Regions from separate parts of the Homo sapiens genome. Here regions 1 and 2 are each linked to region 3. Evidence: fine-mapped expression QTL. A gene starts in region 3. Each other region holds a variant in brackets. All regions are shown on one strand. Distances are between the middles of the regions.

Region 1 (10,715 bases), 110 kb before region 3:
ATTGATCTTAAATTTACTTCCTAGAGATATCTTAGATCCTAGATTCAAATAAAGTAAAAGCAGAAGAAAGAGCAGCTGAAGCTACACAGTATGATGTTATGTGATAGATCTGTATCCTTATGTTTTGCAGAGAAAAGAACACAAACAAAATGAGAAAATAAAAAAAGAAGACACCCAGAAGGGTAATTGCTCTCGGTACTTTCTAACTATAAGAAGAGGCATTGTAATTTAAACAAAGGTGTCATCCAGGAGACAGGCATGCCTTTGGCATGATCCTAATATATAGTCCTTAGAAAGACAAGTAGAAGGAAAACACCACCCCTCACATACAATCTATAGTTGGAAAATGGATAAATTAATAGAGATACAGACCTAGCAATTTATGCATATGTAAAGTTCTATGGCTTTATCTCTATATCTGCAATCATTTTTATATTACAGACACAGAAATTTTTCACGAGAACATGCTGGTATTTGAAATGTTCCAAAAAATCTGTTCCATTTAAGTAAGCCTATCTTAGTCGATTCCCCCATCTTCCAAAATCATGACGCAAAACAAATATCAACTAATGACAGAATCCAGAAACAAAGCTTTTTAGAGAGACAAGGAAAAGCATGGTGGTGGAGAGTAAGTTGCATCAGGCCAGACACGGCGGCCCACGCCTGTAATCCCAGCACTTTGGGAGGCCAAGACAGGCAGATTACCTGAGGTCAGGAGATCGAGACCATCCTGGCTAACATGGTGAAACCCCATCTCTACTAAAAATACAAAAATTATCTGGGTGTGGTGGCACATCCCTGTAATACAAGCTACTCGGGAGGCTGAGGCAGGAGATTTACTTGAGTCTGGGAGACGGAGGTTGCAGTGAGCTGAGATCATCCTACTGCACTCCAACCTGGCCGACAGAGCAAGACTCTGTCTCAAAAAAAAAAAAAAAAAAAAAGTTGCAAGCATCTGAACTCCAGGCCTTTAAAGAGAAAATGTTAAGTGCAAGGGATGGTTCCCGTTCTCAAGAGATTGGGGAAGTTGGCATGTTCCTGAGGCAGAGACTGCAGCACCAGGGGAAAAGGCAGGGAACAAGGGTTACCTAGAAGCTGAGAGGTACATTCTTACTCACATGATTTATGGAGGAAGAGTTTTCTGGAAGGGGGAAGTGAGATAATAGGACAGGCCAAAGAAAAGACATAAGCAAAAGTGTGGTCTCAGTTGAAGACTAGCCTCAGCCTGATCCAATGGCAACTCAGGAGTACAAACTGCCCCAACGAATTGGTCAGAGCTTGAGACTATCCTTTGCTACCCCAATACCAGGCCATCATTAGTTTAGGGATATCCTGGGGCATACTTACGGTTGGCTTGACATCCCAGGCAAAACAAAAGACAGTTTTGAATAAAATCAGAGGCATATAGGATGTAGGAAGAATTATTTACAGCCTCAGAGTATTAGACTTTAAGTGTTGAATAATTCCAATCAAAAGTCAGAGTTAATATTTTGGTTTTTAGTACTGGTGTGGGGGCCTATCAGGTATGAATGGTGCCTACATGTCCTTTTCAAATGAGCAAAATTTTAATATTTACTCAAAATCATTTGATTTGAGCATTGCACTCATACCTGTAGACAGGAGAGATGGGATATACTGATTGACTTTGAAAGTCTGAGTCCTTTGGCCTGGTAATGGGGTCAACTAATCCAGGACCATATGGATTATTAAAAAGAGGTATAGAAATAATGGGAAAATGAAAGGAAAAGTGGTTGTCAGAAAGCAAGCACATGTCTGTTACTATTACCCGGTACACTCTTGTGTTTATTGACTGGGGTACAGAGTCCAAGTGAGACTCAGAGATTCCAAGGAAAAAAATGCCTGATGTCCTCTAACCTTCAGTCCAGAGCTCTTTCTATCATGCTGATTTCTTCACAATCCTTCTGCTTAGTTTCTTCTAAACCTTTCTAATAAAATCGTAGGTCATTTTCCATTAGAGTTGTAAAATAGTAGTAAGTAATGAATTCTTAGTTGTATTCTACTGCTCATTTTCTTGTGTTAATCACTGCCTTGCATTAAGATCATCTTTCCACAGTGTTTTAAAGAAATTATAGTCACCTGGTTCCATTTTCACAGGTTCCAATTTAAGAGATTCAGGCTAGAGTATGGATGCTTATATTATTCAAGGCACTCTACAAGTGATTGCACGCCAATTAAAACTTCTGTTAGGTTGGTGCAAAAGTGACTGCGATTTTGACCATTACTTTCAGTGGCAAAAATTGCAACTACTTTTGCACCAACCTAATCATATCTGTTTGAAAATTGCTAAAATCAAGGAACCTGCATAAAGAGATTGACTGATTTTCTGTTATATTCTGGAACAGTTCCTTTAAGGTGAGTGTTTAATTCAGCAATTATATATTTGCAAGTTTTGATTCATCTTACATAAAAGGCCCATAGGGCAATTATCACCAGGCTTCTATAAGTAGCGGCAGCCACATTACAAGTTTAGGGAAGGCGTTCTTGTCCATCATTAAAGAGTGAAGCAAAACTTCACTCTTTAGAAACAAGTTTTAAAAATATTCCTTTCTAATAGTATTTCTTTTATATATAATATTGGGGAGTGATTTCTAAGATTTTAAACATGAAAATAAATAATTATACACTGTGGAAATTCCTTTCTCTTTGGATATCTTGAAGATAGAATAGTTAGAAATATTAAGAAACAATAAAAAGTAATATTAAAGCTCTCTTCTACAACACAGTTCCAGTTTGAAATAACTGGATTTTAAAATGAAATAAAGAGAGAATATAGTCTGAGTGAGATTGAAGGCTATGCTAAACTGTTCATTGTCAGTTGTTTTATAAACTTAATTTTCTTAGCATGAATTATGTTTTACTTTATTAAAATTAATAAAGTATGTAAAATTTTACATATCTATAAAATATAAAAATTAATTCATGCTAAAGTAGATAAAAGTAAAGAAGAAAAACTGAGCTTATCAAAGCACCACAACTGTCCAAAATAATAGAAAGCCAATTAACATCTCTGACGAGTTAATTAAAATACATATTCAAAATGGGTTATTTCACTTAAATTGATTATTTGTTGTTTTCTTTACCAAACTGCTGTATATAAAGTAAATTGTATTGTCATCTTTAAAATGTTAGAATATTCTGAATATTAATTAATAAACATTAAGTTCATGACACCAAAGTCAATTTTTAAAAAATTGGAAAGTATTTGTTTCTAGATGTTTCTTCAATATAAGTCTAAATTGGTCGTGAGTCATTTAAAGAACTCACTTATTTTGGAAAATAAACTAGTCTGCTTTTTAGAAGTTACAAAGTACCAGTTAGCAAATCTATTTATAAATCCAGTTCATAAATGTTCTCCAAAAATTTCAGATAAACAAAGCTCCCTCTGCTTGGTTTTCAGAATACTTAAATTATTTATGATAATGTTAAATATCTGGTAAATATTTTCCAGTATGTTACTCTCTTTATTTAATCTTCTCTTTCTAGCTTATTTTAATTTTGCTTTCTATAAATAATTAATAGGTATGTTAAAAGACTATAACTATAGTCAATTCATCAAGTTACCTCAACTGTTTCCATTTGGGTAGTTATTTGTCACATTTAATCTACCTTTACTAAAAATAGCATTGAGAAAATTTAAATACACACACACAAACACCACACAGTTTAAAGGACCATTTATTACCTCAAAACTACAAGGTAAATAGACAACTAGGCAAATAGAATCAATGACATAGAACAGACCATTTAGTCTCAGCATGTGTAAAAGCTTCATAGGAATAATATGTAGAGATAAAACTCTGGGAGTAAGAGGTGAATTGTCCAATATATTGGGTTGAGAAAATTGAAAAGATATTTAACGATTAATTAATTCAGATACACATTTTACTTTAGGCATTTTACAAACCAGAAGAATGGAAAAATTTGCAATAAAAAAGAAGATTTATATAAGCATTAATGAGGAAAGTTTTTGTAAGCATTGGTAAAGTAATAAGAGACAAAGGCAATAGATATGACTTCATAAATTTTTAATATTCGTACACATAAAATATACACTTTAAATTATAATTAAAGGAAAACAAGTTGGAAACTAATTTTGAGTTAAATATAATTGTTAAAACATTTAAGTACTCTTAAAAATTGATAAGAAGATCACCACATCTTCAGGAGAAAACTAGTCACAGGCTCTAAAAGACATTGTCAGGAAAATACATACAATTGGTCTTAAGCTGCATAATATATTGTCATTGGTGATTATTTTGTACCTATAGTCTGTGAATTTACTCTCTATCCACTTTTAAGCCCTCCCTAAATAATCCCATTTATACTCGTGCCTTCAGTTATACACCCAGGGCCCTCATATTTGTATCTTCAGCTGAGAATTATTTTTCGTGCTTCAAATGATTCATGGATGTAAACAAAACGAAGTTTTTCCCCACAGTTTCTTAAAAGTAGTTCACATTTAACAAATCCAAAATATATTACATGACCCAGTCACTCACAAAACTTATTCTTCTACGGGTCTCCATTCATCTCATGATACAAGCTAGAAAATAGAGTCATTATTGACCACTCTTCCATCATCATGAATGCCCAAGACATCTCCTGGTCCTGTCAAATGTACCTGCAAATATTTCCAACTTTTTTCTCATCTACCTTTTCACCTTGTCTCCATGCATTCACATGGGCTTCATTCCAATTTATTTTCTGCATTAAAAAACATAACTTTGTTTAAAAGCCAAATTACATGTTGTCATTCTCTATTTAAATCTCTTTAGTGCTTCTCATTAAGATCCAAGGAAAGGATTTAAATACTATCTAGTTTTTATGCTTATGTTTTATATTCACCTATCCCTCCAATCTCATATCACCAAAGAACAATGCTCTCTCCTACCCCAGATCCTTTATAGACATTATTCTTCCCAGAACATTTTCTATCTGCTTTTTTGTGTCTAATGGCTATTACTCCTCTTTTAGCTCTAAGTTCACTGAGAGTGTGTCCATGGCAGTTTTACATGAACCAGAGATTTAACTTCCCTATTATGATCTCTCATATCACCTTGTACACTCCTCCATAGCACTGACCACAGTTTTACAACTGTAACTGTAGCTGTTACATTTATTTTTGTGATTGTTTCATTTATGCCTATCTTTTTCCATTCACTGTAAATTTCAGAAACTTAGCTACTCATGCTCTCTCTAGTACCCAAAACAGTGTCCAAAAGATAGGAAACCAAAAAACCTTTGATCTACAAGTAAATGAAATAAAGTCTGTATACAACAATGGGATGAAAAAGAATAATTGGATTCTATTCTGTAAAAAAGAAATGGAAGTATTGCCTTTAAATATTTCCACTGGGAGTAAAACTTAGTACAATCTTTTTTGGAAACCATACCAACTAAAAGATAATCCTTAAGAATTGTCACAAGATTTATTCTAGTAGTTTCACTTCAGATATTGTAATTTTTACACTAGAAAAAGATGGTGCAGGTTCTTATTTAGTTGAATGAGAAAAGAATAAAATCCAAAGGAAATATTCAGAAAAACTATCAGTGTTGTGAATGAATATACACACATACACAAACAAGAAATCCATTTAAATGTTATGTACTATGACAAAAGTAATACAAACATTCTGCAGGTTTTAAAAATATGTTAGGCCAGTCGCGGTGGCTCACGCCTGTAATCCCAGCACTTTGGGAGGCCGAGGTGGGCAGATCATGAGGTCAGGAGATCAAGACCATTCTGGCTAACACGGCGAAACCCCTTCTCTACTAAAAATATAAAAAATTAGCCAGGCATGGTGGTGGGCGCCTGTAGTGCCAGCTACTTGGGAGGCTGAGGCAGGAGAATGGTGTGAACCTGGGAGTCAGAGCTTGCAGCGAGCCGAGATTGCGGTACTGCACTCTAGCCTGGGTGACAGAGCGAGACTCCATCTCAAAAAAAAAAAAA[AAAAAT/T]ATATATATATATATATTTTGATGATAAATGTAATAAATGAGACATTGTTATAAAAGATTTAAAGTTTTAGAGATGGTTAAAATTATGCATATATACACAGTAATAAAACTAAGATTAAAATAAAAAATACCAAAAAGTGAACAGCAGTACCTGCCTCTGATTTTTATAGTGATTTTTTCCATGTATTTTTCAACCAACATGACTCATTGCTATAACAAAAAATTGTTTAAAAATTCCCAAGATTTGCTATTTCATATTTCGTATTACTTTAAGGAAACTGGTCTAATAAGTTAGTGACAAGATTAATTCAACCTGAATAGGCTATTTTCTGCTTTCAGAATGTATGTTTTCCACTTGCCATGAATTCTTAGATTCAATAAGGACCTCTCTGCAGGTTTCCTAACAAATCTTTAGATTCATGTCAGGTGTACATTCTGATTTATATATATTAAGATTACTTAAAATCAGTGAAGCAAACACAGTCATGATTGCTAAATGCCAAGTCACAGAAATTCAGTATTAGTCCCACTAACTCTGTTCATTTCATATCTTAAAAAATGTTGATAGAGTTGGGGAGAAGAAAAATAAAAAGTCAATTGGGCATAGAATAATTAAATTGTGGGTGAAGCTAGAGATTGTTTCTGTCCCGTGAAGCCTTGACAATATTTGGGCAGTGTCTCTGCATTTCATATTTTTTAACTTACTTTTTCCAATAAAAATGATACATATTTATTTTCCAGTTAGGGAAACTTTTACTGGCTGGGACTCTTTTAAAATATGAAGTCTAGTCGCATTTTAAAAAGTAGCTTTTCTCATTAGGTTAAACAATCAGGCCAGATAATTTAATCAACACAAACATTATTAGGGATACCCATAGACAAGTCTCATTAATGACAAGAACCATCACAGGAATTTTAGACAATGCCCTGTATTTCTGATGAGCTAGGAGAAAGACAGAATACATTCCAAATAACATATTCCTTGGTGAACATACGGATTTTTTAAAACTATCACCAGGAGATCATAGTACAAAATATAATTTAGACTGCTAATCCACAAGAGACAAATTACTTACTATTACAAATTACTTCTTAGCTTCCCATTAGCTTATATAAGTTCTAATCATAGGAATGAGTAAAATCATGAGATTCTATGGTCCTTTTGCCATGTATGCTTGCTGTGTTGTAATAGTTTTGTTAGAGAAGATAGAAAGCTTACCACTCAGTGCCATAAGTGAGAAGGAACAACAACAACAAAAAGGACTGTGGCCAGACATGGTGGCTCATGCCTGTAATTCTAGTGCTTTTGGAGGCCAAGGCAGAAGATTATTTGTGGCCAAGAATTCAAGGTTACAGTGATCTATGATTGCACCACTGCACTCCAGCCTGGGTGACAGAGTGAGACCCTGTCTCAAAAAAAAAAAAAACAAAAACACACACACATATATATATATAAAGAAAAATAATGAATGTGGAATGCTGTCATTGTCAATAAAATAGCATATAAAGTAGAGGAGAAAAGTTACCTACAGAGATGATGGTGTGACTTAGTTTTGCACATGGAGATCAATTTCAGATTTTGTTTTCCTTTCAGAAAGAAAGATTAAAAAGCATTTTAAGAGATAAAAGAGGCTTTTTCACAAGAATAAAAAGTTTAATTTATAAAGTACCAAGAAAATACATCAAATCAAAATATATATGCATCCAATATATGGCTTCAAATCATATGAAACAAAGATAAAGAGAAACCAGAAAGAAGTAGCCATATTAACAATCATTGAAGGAGAATTGAAACTTACGTAACTGTGCATTCCAGTTACAGAAGAAAAAGTTGAAAAAAATAAGAAAGGGCAAGGAAGATTTGAGTAAAACCAAAATTTGCAGAATATGTTTTCTTCAAGCACATATGGGCCACTGATAAAAAGTGACTAATTGCAGGTCTATAAACCAAACCTCAACATATGGTTAAGCACTGAAATCATACAGAATATACTCTCTAACTGCAGTACAACTGCATTAAAAATGAATAAAAAATAAAACTAAGAAATCTCCAAATAATTAAAATCTAAAAAATACAATTCTAAATAATACACATTTCAAAGAAGCTGCAAAAAAATAAATATTTGAAGTAAATGACAATGAAAACAATCCATACATTGTTTGTAAGATACAGAAAAACAATTTCTTGAAGAACTTTGTTAAGTGAGTATATTACAAAAGAAGAAACATTGAAGATTAATGAGTCAAATATCCACCCCAAGAAGTTAGGCAAAGTTCAATAAAAAGAAAATAAAAATAAAAGGATCCAAAGTAAGTAAAAATGTACAAATAATAAAGAATAAAGCATAAATAAATAAAAAGCAAAATAAAAATACAAAAGAGAGGATCAACAAAGTAAACTATTAATTTTTTGAAAAGACCAGTAAAATTGATAAAACTCTGGCAAGACTAATGAGACAGAGAAAAAGAAAAAGAGAAAGAGAAATCTTATCACTGATATCAGGAATGAATAAGAAAATTTTATTGATTCACTTTAGGCCCAGCAGAAAATAAGACAATAAGATATTGTGAACGAATTTATTTCAGCTAAAATGAAAAACTAAATAAAATTGACAAAGCTTTTAACAACACATATAAAACAAGCAATATAGAAAACTTATGTAATTATATATTTAATACAGAAAAGAAATTAGTAATTTTATATTTTACCATTGTGAAAATTTTGTGACTTAATGTTTTCATTGGGAAAACTTACCAAATATTTGAAGAAACCATATTTCAAATCTTAAATAAATTATTCCAGAGACTGGAATGAGGAAACACCCCTTAAATCAATTTAAATGGTAATTATAACTTTGATATTAAAACTGAGAACATCAGTACAGGCAAAGAAAATTACAGATAAACTAAAAGATACCAGATACAAAATTCTAAATAAAATATGAGTAAACATAATGAACCAATATAGAAAGAGAATTCAACATTACCAAGGTCAATCCTAAAAAAGCCAATCAACATGTTGCATCCCATTAACAAGCTAAAGAAGAAAAATCATTTGAGTATCTCAGTAGTTTTAGAAAAAATTATCTTATAAAATTTGTGTTACTATACAAATAGAGTGGAGCTTACTTAATTAAACAAAGATTTTTTTCAACAATAAACAGAGAAGCAAAAACATAACAAAACAAAAAATTTTAGAATCATCATACTGAAAGTGAAACATTAAAATATTTTCTCTGTACAAATAGGGACAAAAGAAAGACTCAAAATTACTACTTCTATTCAATATTGGAAAATGCTGTAAAGAACTAAAATAAATTAAAGTATAAATATTGCAAATAGAAAATCTCTAAATGTTTATAGACAATAGGATTTTGTGTGTGTGTTTAAAAATTCAATAGACTCTAAACATTAATTTTTTAGAATTAATTGGAAAGTTGAGCAAACCTCCTGGTTTCTAGTACAACATTCAGAAACACACTACAAAGAAAAAGATATAATTTACAGTATATGAAAAATATCAAGTACATAGTAATAAATTTGACAAAGGTGTACTTGAGTAGAAAAAATAAAAGTATAAAAATTTAATGAAAATCTTTAAGAAGGTCTAAAAAAATAGATTTATGGCATAGATTGCACTACAGAACAGTGAGTAACCTATAGTCTTTTCGAGTAATTTATGCAGAGGCATTTAAGTACTGATATGAAAATTATTGTACCTCCCATTTATACTACAAAAATTCATTCCAAATAATTTATAGATTACATGTGAATAGCCAAACAAAGCTTTTATAATACAGCATAGGAGGCAATCTTTATGAATCCATAAGGGACCAGTTGAAAAGCATTATTCATTAATTATGTTTATTATTACAAAGTATGAGGAAGATTCCTTAAATTATTCAAAAGCATGAACATTGACTTGAAATGATACTCATGATACATAAAATGAGAAGAAGAAGTAAGAACAATAAATCCATAGTAATCAATGCCATTTGGCATTGACACTAAGAGAAGAGTATAGATTATGAACAGAATTAAAAGTCCAGAAATCAACTTTATATTTATGGTCAACTGACTTTTGACGAAAGTGCAAAGACAATTCAATAGGAAAAGAATAGTCATTTCACAAATGCTGCTGGAAAAATTATATATCCCCATTGAAATATTTTTTATTAGAAAAAAGGGGGGAACCTTGCACCTCTACCTAACATTATATAGAAAATTTATTAAAAGTGGATCAAAGACCTAAATATAAGAGCTATAACCATAAAAACAAACAAACAAAAGCATCTGGAAAAAAGAGAGAAATAAATTTTTTGGCCTTGGATAAGGCAAATAATTCTTATATGTAATACCAAAATAATAATTCTTATAGGACAAAAATTGATAAACTGCACTATACCAAAATTTGAAACTTCTGCATCTCGAATGACATCATTATGAAAATGAAAATATGAGTGAAAAACTAGGAGAAAATATTTTCCAATCGTATATCTGGTAAATAAGTTGTATCCAGAATACACAAAAATTTTCACCATTCAATAGAGAAGAAAAAATTTAAAAATGGGCAAAATAGTTGATTATGTATTTCACCAAAGAGATACACAAATGACCCATGTTATTATTATTATGACTGCTTACTAAGCATCTACAATTCTCCATACCTCGTTAAAGATTCTCGACATTCCAAAACTAAAGATATTGCCTCTGTCCACCATTTTAAATGGCAAGAAAGT
Region 2 (10,715 bases), 140 kb before region 3:
TTTCAGAGAAGTGAACTGGGCCTAGATTCAATGAGATGCCAACAGACGTACATTTTATTGAGAGACTCAAAACAACTGCTTTCAGTGAGTTGATTCACATTTGCTCACATTGTGTGCATCTTACCCACTAGGGAAGCGTAGGTACCTAGATTCATAGAGCAGAGATAGTAAGGATTGTAAAAGAAAAGAGAGAAGCCCCAAAAGGGAAGGATGAGAGAGAATCAGCAGTACATTTCCCTTGCACCAAGTCAACACAGTCACACATACTTAGGGGCATCAATTCTTTTTTTTTTTTTTTTTTTTTTTTTTTTTTTTCAGACAGAGTCTCGCTCTGTCTCCCAGGCTGGAGTGCAGTGGCACAATCTCCGCTCACTGCAAGCTCCTCCTCCCAGGTTCACGCCATTCTCTTGCCTCAGCCTCCCGAGTAGCTGGGACTACAGGCGCTCGCCACCAGGCCTGGCTGATTTTTTGTATTTGTAGTAGAGACGGGGTTTCCCTGTGTTAGCCAGGGTGGTCTCGATCTCCTGACCTTGTGATCTGCCCGCCTTGGCCTCCCAAAGTGCTGGGATTACAGGCGTGAGCCACCGCACCCAGCCAGGCATCAATTCCTTACCTCTTCTATCTTTCTGTTTAGTAAGTGACATCTTGTTTGACCAGAGTTTACCCATATTTATTCTTTCATTTTTTAAACCATGTTATTTTTACTGTTTCAAGAAAAAAAAAGTCTTTTTGTTGGTGGCTTTCCTGTGTTTTCTAGAATTAGAAAATCATTTTCTAAGAGCATTAGACATAACCAAAATGCTTCATCTCTGTAGAACTTTGTAGCAAGTAGGGATGTGGGGAACTGTGATTACAATGAATTACAGAAACCTTGTGTGCAAGACATGGGAAAGTGTCAGTACTCCTGCCCAGTGCACTATAGATGCTTCTAAGGACCCATACAGGGCTGTTCTTCCAGTCTGTATGCTTTCCTTAAAAAAAAAAGAAAATAAAATAAAAGAAGACAGGAATGGAAATGATGTGCCATTATTTTCTCCACCTCAAATTTCATCTTGTAAAAGTTTTGTTTACCTTTTTTCAATGCTGACGCAGAGTGATTTAAAAAATGAAATCAGGTATCAATGAACTCAGGATAAAAAGCACCACGAGTTTTACCACCCTGACAAGTCATTGCATAGGCATCAGCAAGCTTTAAAAAATCACAGTGGTTAGACAACATAATTTGCATTGCCCAATATCTTGTAAAAACAGCTAAATGTTTTATTTCACAGACTTCCTTCTCAGGTTGTGTCTCAGTGATTTTCACTTATTAAGTAGCATCACAAGCCATGAAAATATTCTCCCCAGGCACACACAGCTCACTAGAATTTTTGTTCTCAAAATATTGATTTCATGATTAAACATTCCATCAGATAAGAACTCTAGACCTGAGCTTTAGACTTTTCATACTGGGTTGCATTTATGGTTTGAAAAGTCTTGAAAATTATCTATTTCAATTAATGAAATGTAGAGATACTGTTCTATCACAAAGATTAGATTTATTCCCAAGTTCCCATTGCTCATAAGAGGCTAGTGTTCTGTGAAATTTATGATAATACTTAGTTTCTTAAACTTTGTTATGTGGCCATATGCTGCCATTTATACGTCTGAAAAGCATGGCTGGAAATTATGAGGAAACAGAATTGGTATATGACTACTTAGGAAAATGCACACAGTCATTTTATGACTGCTTTTGGTAACTGTCTTTTTCCCACAAACAGTTAGGCTTATAAAAGGATGAATTTTCTTTAAAATTTTTTTGTTTTTCTTCATTCACATATTAGGCATGAAAGATGAATTTTCTAAATTTGGTTTATATTGGCCAACACAAGTTAAATAACAGTGTGAGGCACTTAAACTTTATGCTGGCATCTGAATTTAGTCTCTCTACTAATCAGATACTTTGCAATACTTGATATCCTTTTTAACTTTCCCCATTATCTGGGTGACAAACCTTTTCAAGCACTTTTGTGACTCTTAAAATCATAATATGCTAGACCTTTTAAAAATTTTAAGTTATCATAAACCCTTCAATATTGTTTCTAAATTAATGAAGTCTTCAAATTAAATATCAATTTACAATTATACATTTGAGATTGGAGTTACTTTTTAAAATTATCTTCTTGAAAGGTCAAATTGTCTTAAACAATTAAAATAGTTGAAATGTAAATATTTATACTTATATTTCCTAATGTAAATTATTAATAACCTGGAGTCAATTGTATTTTGAGTGATTCTAAATTTTCATAAGTTTTCAAATGCTTACCACTGCAATCACAATTATATAAGCCCAAATACTGTGAAGGGCTGCTTTCCTAAAGCAATGTTTTTGGACCTGCATCTTTGAGTTTCTAAGTACTTAAGAAACAGGACGATTGGCTAGGATGCAGTTGAACAATTTACTATAACACTGATGATATAGGTGAACCCTATTTACAGTTGTCATACTCTGTTACAGAAAGATGAAGTGATGATGCTGAACACGTGCCTTAGATTTAGAACCTATGTTTTTTAAGTAAAACTATATGTAACTGGTAACTGATGGCTATAGTTCTTGGTTGTAATATTAATTTTGTTGCTTTTAAGTTCTCCAAGTTAATTAACTGTTCCCTACAACTCTAAAGACTTTTGAACTTGATAGAACTCTTATAATATACATCTCATCTCTTAGAACCACATAAGGCTTTCAAATATTAAAATCATGTTCCATTAGCATTGTCTGTTTCTCATGGCTTCCGTATATTTGGTGTTATCAAAATGTATTTTTCTTAGCAATGACAGTCTCCTCATTCTTCAGAGTGTTACTCTAGGTTATTTCTGTTTATGCTGTAATAGAATTTCAAAGTTTAAATGTAATTTTAAAGTGCATCTGGTTGATTGACTCATCAGGTGACAAAGAATCACTTTTAACAAAGGAAAGAAATCTGTAGTATATTGTGACATGTACATTTTAACTATTTATTGTTATAATCATTTATTCGTAGTCATTGTACTGAGCTTTTTATTTGGGTGGCCATATAATTTGTTATCCAATTAGGTAGTTTTTGAGAGTAAAAGAGGGAAAAATCACTAATTAATAATTAGGACTGTCCTGAGAAAACTGAGACATATTGTCACCAATGGTGCTCAATGATACTTAACTGAAATGTTTAGAACATTTTCATTCACAAGCAATTCTGTAGAGCACTGTTTTTTACATTCCATGCCCTTTTGAACATTTTTAGTCAGCTAAATTTAAATGCCACTGTAATATGTAAAAATTTTCAAGTAGGGTTGCACGAATTGAATAGGAGACTGCCGACCTGAAGCCTATACCCACACCATCCTCTTTGAGGTACACCATGATCCCACAGGCACCAGCATAAAAATATGGAGCTCCAGAAGACTATTTACAAACCACTGCGTTAATGGAATAAAAAATAACACTTATCAAACACCTATGAAATACCAGCCAATATAAATGGTATGGAAATGGGATTGCAATTTAAATCTGTGTTTAATTAGTTGCAGACCCTCATTCTTATTTCTCAGAAGAAAATGCATTTTTGTAAGCTGCATATCTTAGAAAGTTCTATCATCATTGTCACGTATCTGTCAGGTCACCTTAGGTTATGTTACACCAATAACAAGTAACTTCCAAATTTCAGAGGCATAAAACAAACAAAGAAACCCAAAAAGTTTTTTAAAATAAAATGTTTATGGCTTACACTATGTATCTATTGCAGTATGCCAAGACACTCTGTTTATTTTAGTTCCTGAGATACATAGGCTATTGGAAGCTCTATCTTGACATATACTTCTGTGATTCCAGAATCAAAGAAAGGGAAAATGGCAAAATATTCATTGCTTCTTATAGTTTCTGTCTGGAGATAACAAATGTCTTTTTCTTTCACGTTTCATTGGCCAGAACAAGTTGAGTGTTCATGGCTAAGTCAAACAGAATAAGGTTATATAATTCTTCCATAAAGATGATCCTCAAATAATGTAGTCACTTTACCAGGATCTTATTTTAACAAAATCTATGTTTTTGAACTTGTAATTGATATTTCTTATTCTTTCCTATGGGATCAAATGTCTTATGAGAGCCCTCATATATTTAGACCCACCCAAAGTCCCTAAAAATATATTTTGACTCACTTTCCATATCCATCTAAAATTTCTTCTTTTCTGAATTAAACATTTGTAATGTTTCAACTGCTCTTGAAAAAGCATTGTTTAAAGCAGTGCTTCCCAAATCTGAACGTGCATTGGCATCTTCTGGAGGTATTTTCAAAACACAGGTTCTGATTTAACAGACCTGGATAAGGACTGTAATGGAGCTTTTTGGTTTGTGTTTCAACTAAATGGTATCTTGACCCAATGTTGAGTCTCTAGCTACAGGTGATTCAGTTCTTTTTAGCAGCTAATGAAGTCCATACCCCCACCATTTCCATTAAAGAGCTCTCACCTT[C/G]GTGGCCACTATGCTCCAACCCAAATCACTCTGGGGCCAGGTTTCAGACAACTAGGAATAGCCCTATGCTTTGGAGCCTGGAAAATTATTCAAATAAGCCAATCCATAGGAAGCTATTTTTCCAACAGCACATGCTCACTTCATTTCTGATTGTCACATTTTTGTAATTCTTGCAATATTTCAAACGTTTTCATTATTATTATATTTGCTATGGTGATACGTGATCAGTGATTTTTTTTATTATTGTAAGTGTTTTGGGATGCCATGAATCACGACATTATAAAGAAGCAAACTTAATGGATAAATCCTGTGGTTGTGTGTGTTTTGACTACTTCACTCACCAGCCATTCCCTCATCACTCTCCCTCTCCTTGGGCCTCCTTATTTCCTGTGACACAACAATATTAAAATTAAGCCAATTCATAATCCTACAATGGCCTCTAAGTTTTCAAGTGGAAAGAGGAGTCACCACATATCTCACTTTAAATCAAAAACTAGAAAGGATTATGCTTAGCGAGGAAGGAAGGCATGTCAAAAGCCAAGAGAGGCTGAAAGCAAGGCCTCTTGTACCAGTTAGCTAAGTTGTGAATGCAAAGGAAAAGTTCTTAAAGGAAGCTGAAAGTGCTACTCCAGTGAACACACAAATGATAAGAAAGCAGATCAGCCTTACTGCTGATGTGGAGAAAGTTTTAGTGGTCTGGATGGAAGATCAAACCAGCCACAACATTCCCTTAAGCCAAAGCCTAATCCAGAGCAAGGTTCTAACTCTCTCTAATTCTATGAAGGCTGAGAGAGGTGAGGAAGCTGCAGAAGAAAATTAGCCTAAGATAAAAATAGTCTTTTTGGTCATTCACTGCATATCATTGAATTATCTAATATTCCAACATGTTTATAAATGCTGTCATTAAATCTTACTTTCAATATATAATACTTTGGCTCTTGTTCTCTGTGATTAAACATGTTTTTATAATTGAAATATAATACCATAAGATAACCATTTAAAAGTATACAGTTTAATGTGGTTTGACAATTGTATGCTTTCATGTAGCTGTCTTTAATATCCAGATATAGACAACCTCCATTTTAACAAAAAATTCCCTCATGCCCACTTAAAGTCAGTCCTCACCCTATTAAATAAATACTGACTCGTTTTCTGTCCTTACAGTTTTTGCCTTTTCTAGAATGTCACAAACAGGGAATCACACAGTAGACTCATGTGATTTCTGTAGAAAAAATGATGCTTGCAATTTGTCTGAAGACAAACCTATTTTAATTAATATTATCAAGTGAACATATAGTTAGGAGGAATAAGTTTTAATGTTCAAGATCATAATAGGGTGACAATACTGAGCACCAATGTAGTGTATATTTCAAAATATCTTGACAAGAGGATTTGAAATGCTCCCAACACATAGAAATGAAAAATACTCAAAGTAGTAGATGTCCTAAATACTCTGACTTAATCATTATACATTCTATGCATGTAACAAAACGTTGCATGTACTGTCAAAAAATGTATATGGATATTATATATCAATAAAAATTTTTAAAACATGATCAAGTATTACTGTTGAATTAGAGTAATCTCTGGGAAGTACATTTATATAGTTTCCATGTTCTGTGGAAAATTCTCACTAGATAGAAAAACTAATGCAAAATTAGTTTAGCAAACCAGATGTCTTACACAATTCTTGAGAGTTATCATGGCAGTGTCAAGCAACATGCTAGCACTTTGGCTTGCTTTTTACTCACAAAAATAACAGTTTTATAGGTACTGGGTGAGCATCAAGAGAACTGGCAAATTCTAGAAGAGGAGAGAACAAATCTATATGCTGAGCAAGGTCAATGGCTTCTTCCCCTCCATCTTCCCATGAGGGACTGAGCTTACCCAAAATCTAAAATGAAAGACATTAACTAATACTTAAAGATTAATACAGAGTTTTAAAAAATTAATAGGAATTTAAATTTAAAAATTCACTCTTCATTATGTAAGTATTGTCTTTTAATGTTAAATTAAAAATTGACCTACCACCAGAAAGGTAATAAAAACAGGAACAAAAGAAGCTAAATGCATTACAGATGAATAACATAATCACACTGAAGGTAGAAGGGAAGAAAAGAGCTAACCCAAATAACATTGGAAAAAAATATTTTGACCAGATACTCTAAAGCTAAAGACACAAGAAACTGTACACACATACTGTCATACAGTTAGGAAATTTGTTTCTCATAAGAGTGTGAGTAATTCTGAAATGACTTTACACACATATATTGTTTTATCAGCGTTGTAGAAAAAAGTTACAAATAAAGAGGAGGGTCTTGTTATGTTGAATTAGAATTAAAAGTATAAGTAAGAACTCATACACACACACACACACACACACACATAAAGAAAGAGAGAGATTGAGGGAGAGAAAGAATTGTGTGGATGAGTATTTATACATATACTTTACAGTATTTATACAAATGTTCTTAGCTCTGTACACTGAGAGGCATTGATTTCCCAGTAACAGTGAGCATACCTAGCATCCACGTGCTGGTTTGTAAGTGGTATCCAAAAAGAGGAACTGGGGCTCTGTGATGGTTAATTTTATGTATCAACTTGTCTAGGCCATAGTTCCCAGATAATTGGTCAAGCACCAGTCCAGATGTTGTCATGAATGTGTTTTTAAAATGAGATTAGCATTTAAACAGTACACTTTGTGTAAAAAGGTTATCTTCCTTAATGTGAGGGGCCCTCATATAATCAGTTGAAGACCTTAACAGAAAAAGACTGAAGTTCCCAGAGGAAAAGGCTAGTTCTATAAGCAGACTGCCTTCAGACTTGAGTTGCAATATGAACTCTTCTCTGGGTCTCTAGCCTGTGGGCCTGCCATGCAGATTTTTGGACTTGCCAGCTCCCATAATTGTGTGAGCCAATTTCTTAAAATAAATCCTTCTATATGCATATATACACACATCTTAGTAGTTCCGTTTCTTGGGAGAGCCCTGACTGATAAAACGTCTTTGGAGGAATGGTTGAACTCAAGGCTGATTTAGGGAAAATACAACATGAGCCTAGAGCATCTTGTGTCAGAAAGTAAGCACATGTTCAGAAAAAGCGGGTAACATGTTGAAAGCACACATGAGTCAACCTTAAGGAGCTACTCATGGCTAGAATCGGAAAATTTTGAATAGCAAGATAAATGCTGATAGTAATTATTATAATCCATAGAATAATAGAAGCATATATGGATCCACACTGATAGCAATACATTAATTGCTATCAGTATTTAATCATGTTTTAATGATAGCAATACATTATTGAATAAATAGGTAAATTATGAGAGAGGATAATAATAAATTATGGATGCTAAATTTAGTGGGCTGCAACTTGAAAAGAAACATATTTTTTACAAGGATTATCTTTCTGGGATGTTTTTAATTATAAAGGAAAAAACTGTAGATCAATACTCTTCAAAAGTGTCAAGGTAATGCGATACAAAGAAAGAAGGAGGAACTGTCACATATTGCAGGAGACCAAGAAGATACATGCACAGTGTGAAAATAAGATTCTGGGTTGGACACCGAAATAGAGAGAAGTGGAAACTGATGAAATTCATATAAAATCTGTTGTTTTATATGAAACATTTTCTTGTTTTTATAATTATTTATGGTTTTCACTATTATTAAAAGTTATACTTGCACACAATATAAATTGGGGGTAAAATAGTTCTACAAGGGTCCTTGTAGCAATTCACACATCCTAAATTCCCTTCTAACCTGAGGCTACCACTTTCAACTCTGTTTGACGTTTATTCTAGAATTTAACTGTATATGTCCAAATAATATACCTATTTAGCTACTCCTTGATTATTTTCTAAGTTTTAAGCATTATATACTATTATATACTGCCCCTACCAGAGAATATTAGAAGGTAGGTCTTTTTCAACCCTTTTCAAGCCCCTAAACCACCCCAACACATGTAGCCTCCCTTTTTCCCGTATATCTAGTCTAGTTAAATTGTAATTTTGATTTTTGTTGATTTCAGTATTCATGTTGTAAGTATGAAAACATTACTCAAGCTGAACCATCTATTTTACTATGGCCATTGAAAAAACTTCCTGCTTCAATTTTTTTTTCCTCTGGAGTTAATAATTATCTTATTTTTAGGGATGCAGAGAAGGAAGGTTGCTTAGTTTTTGATGTATTTTTCACTTATTTAATGCTAAACATTCTAACAATTGTCTAAATCTTTCCCCAATGTCTTCATTCATGAATTATTCTATCAAATCAATCTAACTGAGGAAAGTTTTCCTGGGGCCTTCTCTTCTGCTCCAGTCTGGTACACAGTTGTTACCTGTCATCTCTCTTCACTTATTATCTTGGCTATTTCCTTCTGTTGCCTTTTGTCTTGAATCTCTTATTTTATGCACCTTTTGTACATTACTTTCTTGACTTCAACCTTGTTGAAACCTGAATCTGGTTCAGCCTCGTTTAGGTAGTGCACAGTTTTCAGAAACTTTCTAAGGAAGGATACTGGAGGAAATCATTTTATGACCTTTCATGAATGACTTTTGTATCACCACTTAACAGATTGTCACATAGTGGCTTAAAACAATAGTTCCATGAGGTCAGGCAGCTCAACTAGGCTTTATACTCAGGATGTCACAGGCCAGTATAAATTTCTTAAGACAATGACGTCTTATCTGGAGGCTTGGGACAAAGACCTACGTAAGCTTCATTGGATTCCCCCATTGTTAGTATCTTTATCCCTTTTATTTTGGTCTGTTCAAATTTCCAGGAGAAAGATTTTTTTTTTATTTTTTCCCTAACAGTTTAGGCTTAGGTAACTAAATTCTGAGAAACTAGGAAACCTCAACACACATTATTCAGATATTCATATAACAACCTGATTTCAGTACAGTATCACCACTCTAAATTATTCATGATATCCATCACTCCAGACACTACTTTTACTGTAACAGTGAACTAAATCTCTATGGGAGAGCGGGGGGGGGGGGGGGATCAGACTCTCTGTGAGTATGGTAGATGTTGGACCTGTTAAACCAAGTCTCCACTTTTATTTACGTATGGGCACACATGCACACACTCACACACACATGCACACACACATACAATCATAATGCCCTCCTTGTAGGAGGAGATGCTACCCATCTCTAAGTCTTTTGAGGGATCTGTCAACTAAATTTTGTTGTTCCTTAGCTTTTCCCATTTCTGATATATAATTTGGCTGTATCAGATTTTCTAAATCAGTTATGTTATGCTTTGGCATGCCTTCCATCTTTCCCAATTATTCTTTTCTTGCTCTTGTCTTGTCTGTTCTCTTCATCATTGTGCATTCCTGAATTTAAGAAAAGTCTCTTTTCTTTTCTTTAAAAGGACATTGAGGAAGAGGTTTTTTCAATATACATGTTGAATCACTGTATTTACTTGGAGATCCTCCATAATTTTAAACAAATATTCTTTTTCATTTGCAGAAAAATCCACTTGTAAATAGTAAAATATAAAGAATATGAATAATAAAATATATAATGCATGAAGAAAAATGCTGTCATAATCGCACTACAAAATAGCAACTTTTAGTAGTTTTTAATACATATTTGTAGATGTTTTTCAAAATAAACATTCTAGAAATTGATTTTGTCAAAATAAAGCCACTAGTACATATAAATATACAGTAGCAAAAAATTGGAAACTATTTAAATATTAATCAATAGGTGAATGGACAAATTGTGATATATGCATTATAAGAAATGGTATATAGTCATGTACTGCATAATGACATTTTGGTGAACAACAGATTGTATATATGATGGTGGTTCCATAAGATTATAATGGAGCTGCCCTATACAGCTGCACCATTGTTTATCTTTCTTACTATATTTTAACTGTACCTTTTATACGTTTAGATACACAAATACCACTGTGTGACAACTGCCTACAGTCCTTTGTGTAATAACATACTGTACACCTTTGTAGCCTAGGAGCAATAGACTATACCATATAGCCTAAGTGTGTAGTAGGCTAGACAATCTAGGTTTGTATAAGTACACTCTAGGATGTTCACACAATGATGAGATTGCCTAACTATGCATTTCTCAGAACCTATTCCCATTGCTAGATGACGCATAACTATACAGTCACTAAAAATAGTTTGTGTCCTATGCATTCACATAGAAAAATGCCCAACAGGTATTGTTAGATGAACAAAGATCAATATTTAG
Region 3 (10,715 bases):
ACTTTGGTATTTCTTTATCTTTTTATATAGTTATCTTTACATTTTCAAATTAACTTGTTCCTAAGGCTGAAAGAAATAAGAATGAATGTTGCTTCTTTTTTTCCTTTTCTGATTCCTACATCAAGAACACCAATCATATCTTTGTTGGCTTTCTGGTATCTTCTCTCCATAATCATTCATTAATATGACTATTTTTATCTATTTATTGTTTCCTCCTGTACTTTTGCAAATGTTAACAAGCTTGCTCTCCTCTCCCTTTGTTGAAACTGGGTACTATAATTTTTTTCATTTTACGAAATTATACAATTTCATTACGTTAAGATAATACTGGTGTTGCTCTAATTGTTAATTTACAATGGTATTTTATTTCTGACATTATTTTTATTTTTCAACATCGTTTTTATTTTTTCTATCAACCATCTTCCTATTCATCAGCTTTTGTATTACATGTCTTTCTTTTTCTATACTGTAAAACTTTAATTCTTGATTTTTTAAATATAAAATGATATCCTCTGAAATTCGTTTAATTTCTTGCCATTATTATATTTTTAGATTTGTTATTCTTTTACCTGTTGTCATATATATACTTTCCTGTCTTTGTGCCACATAAATCACAAATAAATTTAATGATTATATGTATATATATAAAAAAGCTTTGAAAAATATTTAAACATTTTTTGAAGGCCATATAATTTTATTAACAATAACACATAAAAAGATAGTATACTGCTGTGTTAAAAATTAACACAATATAAATATATTACTAAGAACTATAGCTTAAACATAAAACAACTTAGAAAAAAATTTAGAGAATTGGAATTTTGTAGATTCAGATTCATACCATGGCTCTACAACTAACTAGCTGTGTGTGATAAAGTTAATCGCTCTGTGACTTCCTCACTTTCATTATCTTTAAAATAAATATAGTGAATTTATAAATAAATTATTTAAAATAAATATAGTAAAATAAACATAGTAATTTTTATATTATACTTATAAAGATTTATAATAATATAAACAAATTTAGAGAAATGCCTCGCTCCTAGTAAATTCTAAATCAATAGTAGATATAACAATTATTTTGTTAAAAAGTATTGAAAATGAATTAATTAATCCTGAAGTCTCAACTACCACATATTTATTTTTTTGTTGTCCTATAGTTTCACTTTTTATTATTTTCTCTTCTTAATTTAATTAGATTCTTTCCAAATTTTTTGTATTTCTTAATATTATGACTTCTGTTAAACTTTGCATGTAAAACAAACTCATTATATACATATTCTTATTTCCATGCAGTTAAAAATATGCCCCTATAAAACCATTGGTTTATAAGACAGATGAATACAAAATGGGGGGAAACCACTGGTTAAAAAAATCATCTAATTTTTCCAAGCTTAGTAACATATGAACCAAGAGCAGATGGGGAGAGAATTTTGTATCCCTCCCTTTACTGACTAAATTTGCATCTTCAGTAAAACCTAAGTTTTTTTTTTTTTAGCAAAGTCTTCAACAATACCCCCTACCCTCTACCTCCCAACCCATGCCAGATACTGTATTGTACCTGACAGCTGCTTGTGATAGTGCATGCAACCTTTCCTGGGTAATTAAAGAATACAAGCTTTAACCCTTACCCTATATAGACTCAATAGTATCAGAATAGCTCTGATGAATGGGACCAGATACTAACTTGTTCAAGAAAGGAAGGAGTTCCTTGGTAAAGAAAGGAAAACAGGGCTCTAGAAGGAAGAACTAATAATGCATCAGAGGATGAGTTTGGAGTGAAGGCTTGGATAAAACTTGACACTCACATCATGGGAAAAGTGGAGAATGGGACTGGTCTCAAGTGTAGCATATGGCACAGACAGAAACTTCAAACTAACTTCTCTAGGTCTGTGGGTGTGTATAAGAATAATGGCTGCTGGCCAGGCATGGTGACTCATGCCTGTAATCCCAGCACTTTGGGAGGCCAAGGCAGGTGGATCACTTGAGATCAGGAGTTCGAGACCAGCCTGGCCAACATGGTGAAACCCCATCTCTACTAAAAATACAAAAAATTAGCCAGGCGTGGTGGCAGCCACCTGTAATCCCAGGTAATCAGGAGGCTGAGGCAGGAGAATCACTTGAACCTGGGAGGTTGCGGTGAGCAGAGTTCACGCCATTGCACTCCAGCCTGGACAACAAGAGTGAAACTCCGTTTCAAAAAAAAACAAAAAAAAAGCAAGAAAGAATGGCTGTCTAGATGAAATAAAGAGCAGAAGCATTGGGAACTTGGGCCCTCAGTGATGTGGGATTACTATAGGAGGAGTATGTTACCCTGGCAGAAGAGAATGCCTCCCTTTCTCACATCCCTTTTGCTTCTCTCAGGGAAGGTGTGGAAAAGGTTTTCTCCCATCTCCCAGAGATGTATTTTTTGAAAAATTTCATCCCCTCAGCAGGCTTCAGAGAATAGCTTTTTGCTTTAGCTTTACTGCTGGTAATGATAAAGATGTTTCAGTTCTCTCTCTGAGAGGTGCTTGAAATGAGAGATACTGAGCAGATAATGGTACTGATCCTCCTTCTGGAAATGAATTGGCAATGATCTGGATGTGGCACAAGATACAAGCTGAGGGTATCTCATAAATCAACAGCTAATCTTCAGTTTGATGGTGTAAGCGGAGAGACTCATTAATTAAAAAACAGCCTCTAATGCTGCTTGTAGTTTCTCCATTTTTAAGTCAATGCATATAAATCCCAGTGTCAATAAAGAGGCGGAACTGATCAATCAGAAAAGAAATATAGAAGTAAGAATTGTAATGAGACTATCTACCCTTTGATGGGTGACACTGAGGGAAGAGGAGGGCAATTGCACAGTAGCAAGATGAGGAATCAAGAGTTACAGCAATTGAATTTATTGAGATAAAAAATACTAATATCTAACATATATTACCAGCATTTCATCATCATCCTAAGTCTTTTGTTTTTATGTAATAATTTTTAATCCTCTTTCACCTCTCATTTTAAAGATGAGAACAAGAAGACATAAAGAGTGTCACCAAGGTCTTGGCAAGTTTGCCAAAGTCTCATATCTCCTAATCTGCAAAACTGCAATTTGTGCAAAGAAAATTTGGTTTCTGAACTTGGGTTTTTAACCACTGTTACAGACTGAACTGTGCCCCTTCAAAATCCTATGTTGAAATCCTAACTCCCAGTGCTTCAGAATGTGACTGTATTTGGAGATAGGATATTTAAAATGGTAAAATAAGATCATTAGAGTTGGTCATAATCCAATACGTCTTGTGTTCTTATAAGAAAATGCAATAAGAACATAGACATGCAGAGAGTTAATGTAATAATTGGTATTTATTATTATTATTATTGCTATAATAATTATTAAACAACGAAAAGAGTGAGAAAAGAATTCCGCCATTGAAAATGGACTCTTACTGCACTGATGCAAACAACTATATTGTCATAAAAATACTCACTGATAGTTTCCAATTTCTAGAGGAACCAGGCAGAGAGAAACAAATATGCTCCAAGTCTTGATCACAGGAGTATACCTTACTTAATTATTAAAGGCCATAAATAGTTCAAAGTTTCTTTGACTCTGAAAAACAAAACACGGATCAGCAATATTCCAAGCAAAGGTTAAAAAGATTTGTTCAGTTTCTTTTCTTTTTTTTTTTTTTTTTTTTGAGATGGAGTTTCGCTCTTGTCACCCAGGCTGGAGTGCAATGGCTCAATCTTGCTCACTGTAACCTCTGCTTCCTGGGTACAAGTGATTCTCCTGCCTTAGCCTCCCAAGTAGCTTGGATTACAGGCATGTGCCACCATGCCCGGCTAATTTTTTTTTTTTTAATTTAGTAGAAACAAGGTTTTGCCATGTTGGTCAGGCTGGTCTTGATCTCCTGACCTCAGGTGATCCACCTGCCTTGGCCTCCCAAAGTGCTGGGATTTCAAGTGTGAGCCACCGCTCCCAGCCTGGTTTCAGTTTCCTGAGTTCAGTCCATTTAGTTAACTCTTGTTTTGTTTGATATTTGTGAGCATTTCAGCTCCTTATGAGTCCTGTATATTTTTCTTTATTTTAATGTTACAATTTCCAAAGTTACCAGAAGCCTGTGTTTGAGAGCACCTGTTAAAGTTCTATAGCTCATTATAAACCATCTTTGAGAAGGATTAAACAAGGCAACAACTGTCTGTGAATAGCAAAATGTCCAGGGTACTTACAGTTAGAAACACGATTGACAAAGAAGCTTGGTTATCTCCGTGGTTTACAATAACTTAACATAACGACCTTAATTATGACTGATAGCATATATTCAGCCATTAGAATTCTAGAAATCTCATACAATTTTGGAACATGTATTAGGATTATTCACCCAGATACAACCTAAAGAAGACTGAGCATAATTTTTGCAATCCCATGTACCTAAACATGTCAAATAATCCTGTTTACCTCTCTTCTCTGGACACTTCAGGGGCCCTCTGACATATTTGAAAAGCCAGGTGCCAGGGAAGACAATTTTGAAACTGAGGTTTGATTTTGGGAAGGCTGTTAAATGTTTGAGGTTTAAATAACTTGATATTATGAAATAGAATTCCAGGTTACCAAAAGTTATTTATTTTGCCAAAATCATGACTCAGAAATTTTAAAGAAGCAAAAACCTGTTATAACCCTTTACAAATGTGCCAAAGAGCAGATTAGCACCTTAGGAAAATCTTGTTATGCTTTTATTTCAATTTACAGAAAAACCAAACAATACCCTTTTCTGAATTTAGTCAATATGTTCACATAGAATCTCTTCTGCAAGATTAATTTCCACAGTTCTCCCACCACTTCTTTGAACCTTCAGCTTTTTCCTAATTTAACTCAAACAATCCTTTAACCCTAGGCAAAAGTTTACATTTCCATGCCTTCTTATAACCTTTTATTAAAAAACACATTTTACTGTTCTTACTCACCTTGCATGTAAATATATTTCTAGTAGTTTCAACTCCTAGCAATTTTGAACTTTAAGGTAAAACTTGGAGAGTTGCTTTAATTGTGTGCTAACTGCAACTAAGGTGTGCCTTCTTAGTTAGGGGCGTGGTTAGTTCCATATGCCGTGAGTGAGGCCCTTTAAGAGACAGGGGACATGCAGATATTGAATTAGAGAGGGCTCATCCCCTAAGGCAGGATTGCTAAACAAATCCTTGCCGCCAGAGTTATAAGCCATGGCCTCAGGATGTAAAACAAAATAGAGGATTTATTTCACAAGCAAAACTTTGCAGAGCATACAGTGATAGCTGGGGAGCAGAGGGAGTGGCCTAGTAAAGTGTCTTCTAAAAAAAAACAAACAAACAAACAAAAAAAAAACTTTAAGGGTTTACTTGTTGAGGAGGTGGAAAAGGGGAGTGAAAAAAGGTTTAAAAATGCCTGGGGAAGAACTTCTTATTCGTCTGCAAGTGATTTCAACAGCAGGGTTAAAGCTTAATTACTCTCTGATAAAGTTTAACCCCCTGGCAGGGGAAAAGGAAGGCTGCGGTGGCTTGTGTCTGAGAACCATCTAGCCAGCTGTGTGGGACCCTTGGGCCATGCATCCCGTCCCGGGCACAGAGGGGAGGGGGAGTGAGGAGCCCCGGCTTTCCTGTCTGTCCTGAAAAAGGAAGGAAAAGGCCTTTCCCCCGACGACCCCCAACGGAGCAACGGAGTTTGGGGTCGTGTTTCCCCCACCCTCAGTAGTCTGAGGATGAAAATGCTTAGGATCAACAGTGAGAGGTTTTGAGTCCCCATTTCACTCACTGTTTCTTGAGCTCCCCTGTTGCGCGCCAAAAAGCAGGACTTTCCCTTAGTTCAGCTAAAGACTGGGTCCTTGTCCATTCCACGACCACGACAATTTAGGCTCATAGATGGTTTGAAGGGTGAGTAAAGCAGGGTTTTGTTGGGTGAAAAGGAAGGAAAAGGGGAAACAGGGACCCTCAGCAAGGCCAGAGGCCCCTGCTAGCGTGCTTCCTACCCAGCCGTTTGAATTCCAGGTTCCACACAGGAAGAGGAGGAGTCGGACTCCTGGCTGCTGCAAAGGGCACCAACTTCTGTATTTTCACTCCAGTGCGCATTCCCAGTGCGCAGGCTGGTTGGAGATTCTCCAGGGACCCCCTCCCACCTGGCTGTCTCACTTTCCGTTCTTGACATCAGACATATTGAAATTCTCTGGGGACCTATGTGAAAAGTGAAGTTAATTGCAATGAGAGAACTGGAGTTTGGGAGCTAATCTGATTGGAGGCTGGCCACTGCAGGTGATCACATCCAGGCAATTGCTGTTTAATTAAGGCAATGCGATTAATCACAGATGTCACTCACTGGTAGCAACAGATGACACTGTACAACATTCCACCTATGAAATAAACATAAAGTAACGTTTGGAAAGACAGAAACTGAGTTAGGTCTGAGATTCTCCTTTAATGTTTTAATCTGTCGGGTTTTATTTGAATTCTAAGGATACGTGAAGCTTTATTCTTCTTACCTTCTTGAATATGCCCTCAAAACTATGTCATTAATTTTGAGTTCTTGTTTTAGTTTTTAAATGGAAACTTTCACAAATAAACATTGCAACTTTTTTGCCTTTTTTAGGTATAATATAAATTTAATAAACTACTCAGATTTAAGCTTGATGAATTTTGGCAATTGTACACACCCATTTAACTACCACTCTAAACGAGATATAGAATTGTGCTGTCCAGTATAGTTCCCACTAGTCACATGTGGCTATTTAATCTTAACATTTATTTAATTAAAGTTAAATACAATTTAAAATTTACTTTCTTAATCACACAAGCCATATTTCAAGTTCTTAACAGCTCCTTGTTGGTGGTAATAGCCGCTGACATATAGCTATTGGACATACTGGATAGCACATATTTAGAACTATGTAGAAAGTGATAGAAATGTCTTTGTAAAAATTAATAGCCAGCAACATTAGAAAGTGGCTTCTTTTACTCATAATAATTTTTAAATCTATCCATAATATTGCATGCATTCCTATTTTTTTTTCCTTTTTGCTACTGTGTAGCTTTCCATTTCATTGTTATGCCATAATTTGTTTAGCAGTTCTTGACTTGGGATAAAAAGCTGAGTTAAAAATAAAAAAATAAGAATAAAAGTAAATTTTTAAAAATTTTGCTGTTCATGGAAGTTTGGAGTACTCTACTTTTAGCTATTAGGAATTAGGCTATCATGATACTTTGTAAAATTCATTTTGTGAACATATGTTTGTTTTATTTCTCTTGAGAAAACACCTAGGGGTGGGATTGCTTAACCACGGAATAAGTGTAAATTTATATTTATAAGAAACTCTCACAGGAAAAGAAATGTGTAAGAATATTATTCAGCAGTAAAATACTATTTCACATCCAAAAGAATGTTGGGGGGTACTGACAATACAAAATGTTGGTGAAGATGTAAAACAGATATGAATCTCATACGTTGCTGGTGGGAGGGTAAAATGTTGTAGGTTCTTTGGACAACAATATCTTATTGTGGTTTTAATCTGCATTTTCCCATTGACTGAAGCTGTTAGACAGCTTTTCATGTGTTAATTGGGCATTCTTAGATCTTCTTTTGTGACATGTTCATTTATTTCTTTTGCACTTAAAACAATTAGTTATCTGACATTTAATAGACAATTTTTAGGAGTCCTTTTATGTATTTTAAGTATGCTTATTTTGTCTGATATGTTATTGCATATTCTTTTTCAAGATTTATATCTTAACCTATGTAAATTATAAGGCTAAATGTCTAGTTAGTTATAGGAAGGTGTGGAGCACCAGATTAGAATTTTTTTTAAGTAAACCGCAATGTATCAGAGAGTATGCTCTAAGTGCAATGAGTCCAAAAAATATCAAAGCCAAGAGAAGTAAATAGGGGGTCCTCTATCCAAGAAACTTTAAAAGCTATAGAAAAGAACACAAAGGAAAGAAAAAAACTCCAAAGCCTGTAATTATTTAAAGATTTAATTTCTTATAACTGTCTTTTTAACGTTTCTAAACTTGTATGGCAAACAATAGCATATATTTAGACAATGGAAAACATAAAATTCAATAATTGCTTTTTTTTATAAAATAAAATTGACCATTTACTATTTGGCATATTCAAATTATATAAATTATATAATAGATGCCATATTCAAGATGGCTGGCAATTTTAGCACAGAAAATAGAACAAAGACAACCAAATCTATGCTCTTATAATAATAATGATTTTTAAAAAGCCTCATATCTTTGGTTTCACTTATTTGTGTATAGAACTTCTAATTAGTAAAATTGCCAATATATTTTTATGAATCCTTTGGTTTTACCTTCTGGGTATCTAGAAAACATAGATTTCAAATGTATAAATGATATTTAAAATTCAATTCCAAATTTTTAAAATATTCAAAATATGATATTCAGAAGGTAATAGTATGTGCTTGCAAAATCTATTCATTTTCTCTTAACATTTTGGAGGCAAAATCTTTTACTTCTTCTATACAAAAAAACCCATAATTTTTAGTTTGGGCTGGGAGTCCCAATCTTTAACTTGGCTACATGTGGTCAAATTGCATGGCTCCCCAAACAGAAATGATTGTTATCCACCCCCACACAAAAACCCCACACATCCCAACAAACACACAACATGACATCAGAAAAATCTTTGGATTTTATCTAATATACATATTCAACATAATATACAATTCACCTGAAGCTGTTTATAAATATCTATTTGTCCCATATTCAAGTAAGAACACAGATGATTCAAGTATGCAGGTATAACAGTCAAATGTGTTCTCTCCAGTGTTATTTGCTGTTAAGTTTAAATGATATGCAAGGAAGAAGTCAGAGCTAACAATAAATCTTTACTTTCTACTCCTTTCTTATTCATCATGCACACAGACACATCTATAGACAACATAAAATCTGCACAGACACATCCACACAGTTACAAGCATTTATATAGACACACACACACATGCAAACACACACACTAATATAGCCATATATTCCTCAAGTAATATGATTTTTCTTAACTTTCCACATGCCCCCTAGTTGTTCTAGTCTACTAGGCAGTCATTATAAGAAATAATTATTCTATAGTTTGAACATGTAAGTATAGATATTCTTAGGCTAACAGATTACCATATTGCCTGATTTAAAAAAACAAAAACAAAACTCAGTCTCAAAAGTGAACAATGTCAGATGCCACTCTTGGTTTTGAATATTACTTTATCCTAGTTAGGGCCACGGATGCACATTTTTATTTCAACTTTAAGCTATGAAATGTAAAGTTGTTTACAAAAATATATGGGAGTTCTACTGTTTGAGTTATAAAGTAGACCTTGATCTGAAGAATAGAAAGAGATTTCTAACTGTGCTCTCCAGAAACTGAAAAGCCTGGTTGTATTAAGAGTGAGTGTTCTTTCTCTGGAAGTACTGAAGCAGAAACTGCACAGTCACTACTCCTAAACCTTTCTGAAGGCATCAATCCATGAGGCAGCCAGTTAAATGAGATGCCCTCTGAGGTTACTTCCAAACTGTAGTTTCTGTAATTCTACCAATTTCTCCTGATTTTAACATCTCAACAGTTTATCAGAGCGAAGTGTCTTCTAACATGATTGCTTTGCCTAATTATTTTTAGAACAGATGAAATTATATATACATAAACATTTTTTAAAAAGACATTAATAATTAGTTACTGTCTCTAATTATTTACATATGACTTTTCTAACTGAGACTAAAACTTTTTTTAGAATTGTGTACGTACGTTAAGAATATAGTTTTCAAGTTAAAGTAAGACAACTGACCAAATTATTTGAGAGCAAGTAGATATTCAAAGAAAGTTTAGATCTTTACAATTTCTTTTCAGATGGAAGAAATGTATTAACTCCTCCATTCTGTTCAGAGTAAGCAAAAGTTGTTATACCTTCAACATGTTCTGTTAATGAATTAATTGGGAAATACCTTTTAGTTTTTGAAATTCCAGGATTTGTGAGGTTCAAGTATAGAAGTTTTTGAGGAAGGCGAAATGAAAAGGAGCCCTGACTGCCTGAGGTGGAGATGAAAAAGTACGTTAAAAACATTCGAAAGAAACATAAAGGCAGAGACAAGCATAATTGGATTTTGTAATAGGATTGCTGAGATAGGTTCACGTTCAAAATCATATGAAGCATTCTGTTTTCTTGGTTACTGGTTAGCAAGAGATATTTTATAGGGAACTCATCTGCAACCATGGACACCTTTTTAATTAATAAAGAATATTCATGTTTTAGAATATCAAAGCAAGAAAAATTGCACAGACAAGTCATTGTTTTCTATGTAAAGATAAAAAACTGTTTCATGCATAAATTCAAGAAAATTGAGAGTATCCTATTCTATCTGCATAATGTGGCATTGAGCAAGGCTTGGAGTTTTTAATTGTTTTTCCATTGTTATTTTGAAAAGCATTTAGAAAAAAATACCAGTCTGATTTTCTTTCCACAGGACTCAAATGACAATCTTGCTCAACCTGTCTTAATGCTTTACAGATTATTTTTGTACATTCTCATTGTATTCTTGGAGTACATTACTTATCAATTGTGTTCATGACACTTCCTACAGATATTTTATCTCTTCATGAAGATAGTAAACTAGAAAAATTATGTCATTCATTCTTTTTCTTATTTATTCCTCCAAAAATTCTTAAAATATTGCTTTATTGTCATTCTAAATATCTGCTTTATTAACCT

The links. PIP is the estimated chance that this variant, and not a neighbour inherited with it, causes the effect. A credible set is the group of variants that fine-mapping cannot tell apart.
Region 1: its variant is the best candidate, but not a certain one, in a credible set for the expression of LINC01515 in prefrontal cortex (BrainSeq, PIP 0.74).
Region 2: its variant is the best candidate, but not a certain one, in a credible set for the expression of LINC01515 in nucleus accumbens (GTEx, PIP 0.53).

The regions. Positions count from the first base shown.
Region 1 is chr10:65,676,200-65,686,914 of GRCh38, reverse strand. All of the region lies in intron 3 of LINC01515 (long intergenic non-protein coding RNA 1515), which reads right to left. Among named protein-coding and RNA genes, the nearest start is that of LINC01515, 110 kb to the right of the region's middle. The variant AAAAAT/T (reference allele first, on the strand shown) is at 5,972.
Region 2 is chr10:65,704,589-65,715,303 of GRCh38, reverse strand. All of the region lies in intron 4 of LINC01515 (long intergenic non-protein coding RNA 1515), which reads right to left. Among named protein-coding and RNA genes, the nearest start is that of LINC01515, 140 kb to the right of the region's middle. The variant C/G (reference allele first, on the strand shown) is at 4,490.
Region 3 is chr10:65,565,806-65,576,520 of GRCh38, reverse strand. LINC01515 (long intergenic non-protein coding RNA 1515) reads right to left here and starts at 5,096. Exons shown (of 6, transcript NR_120647.1): 1 at 4,942-5,096; 2 at 3,465-3,586. RefSeq lists a silencer at 9,383-9,583.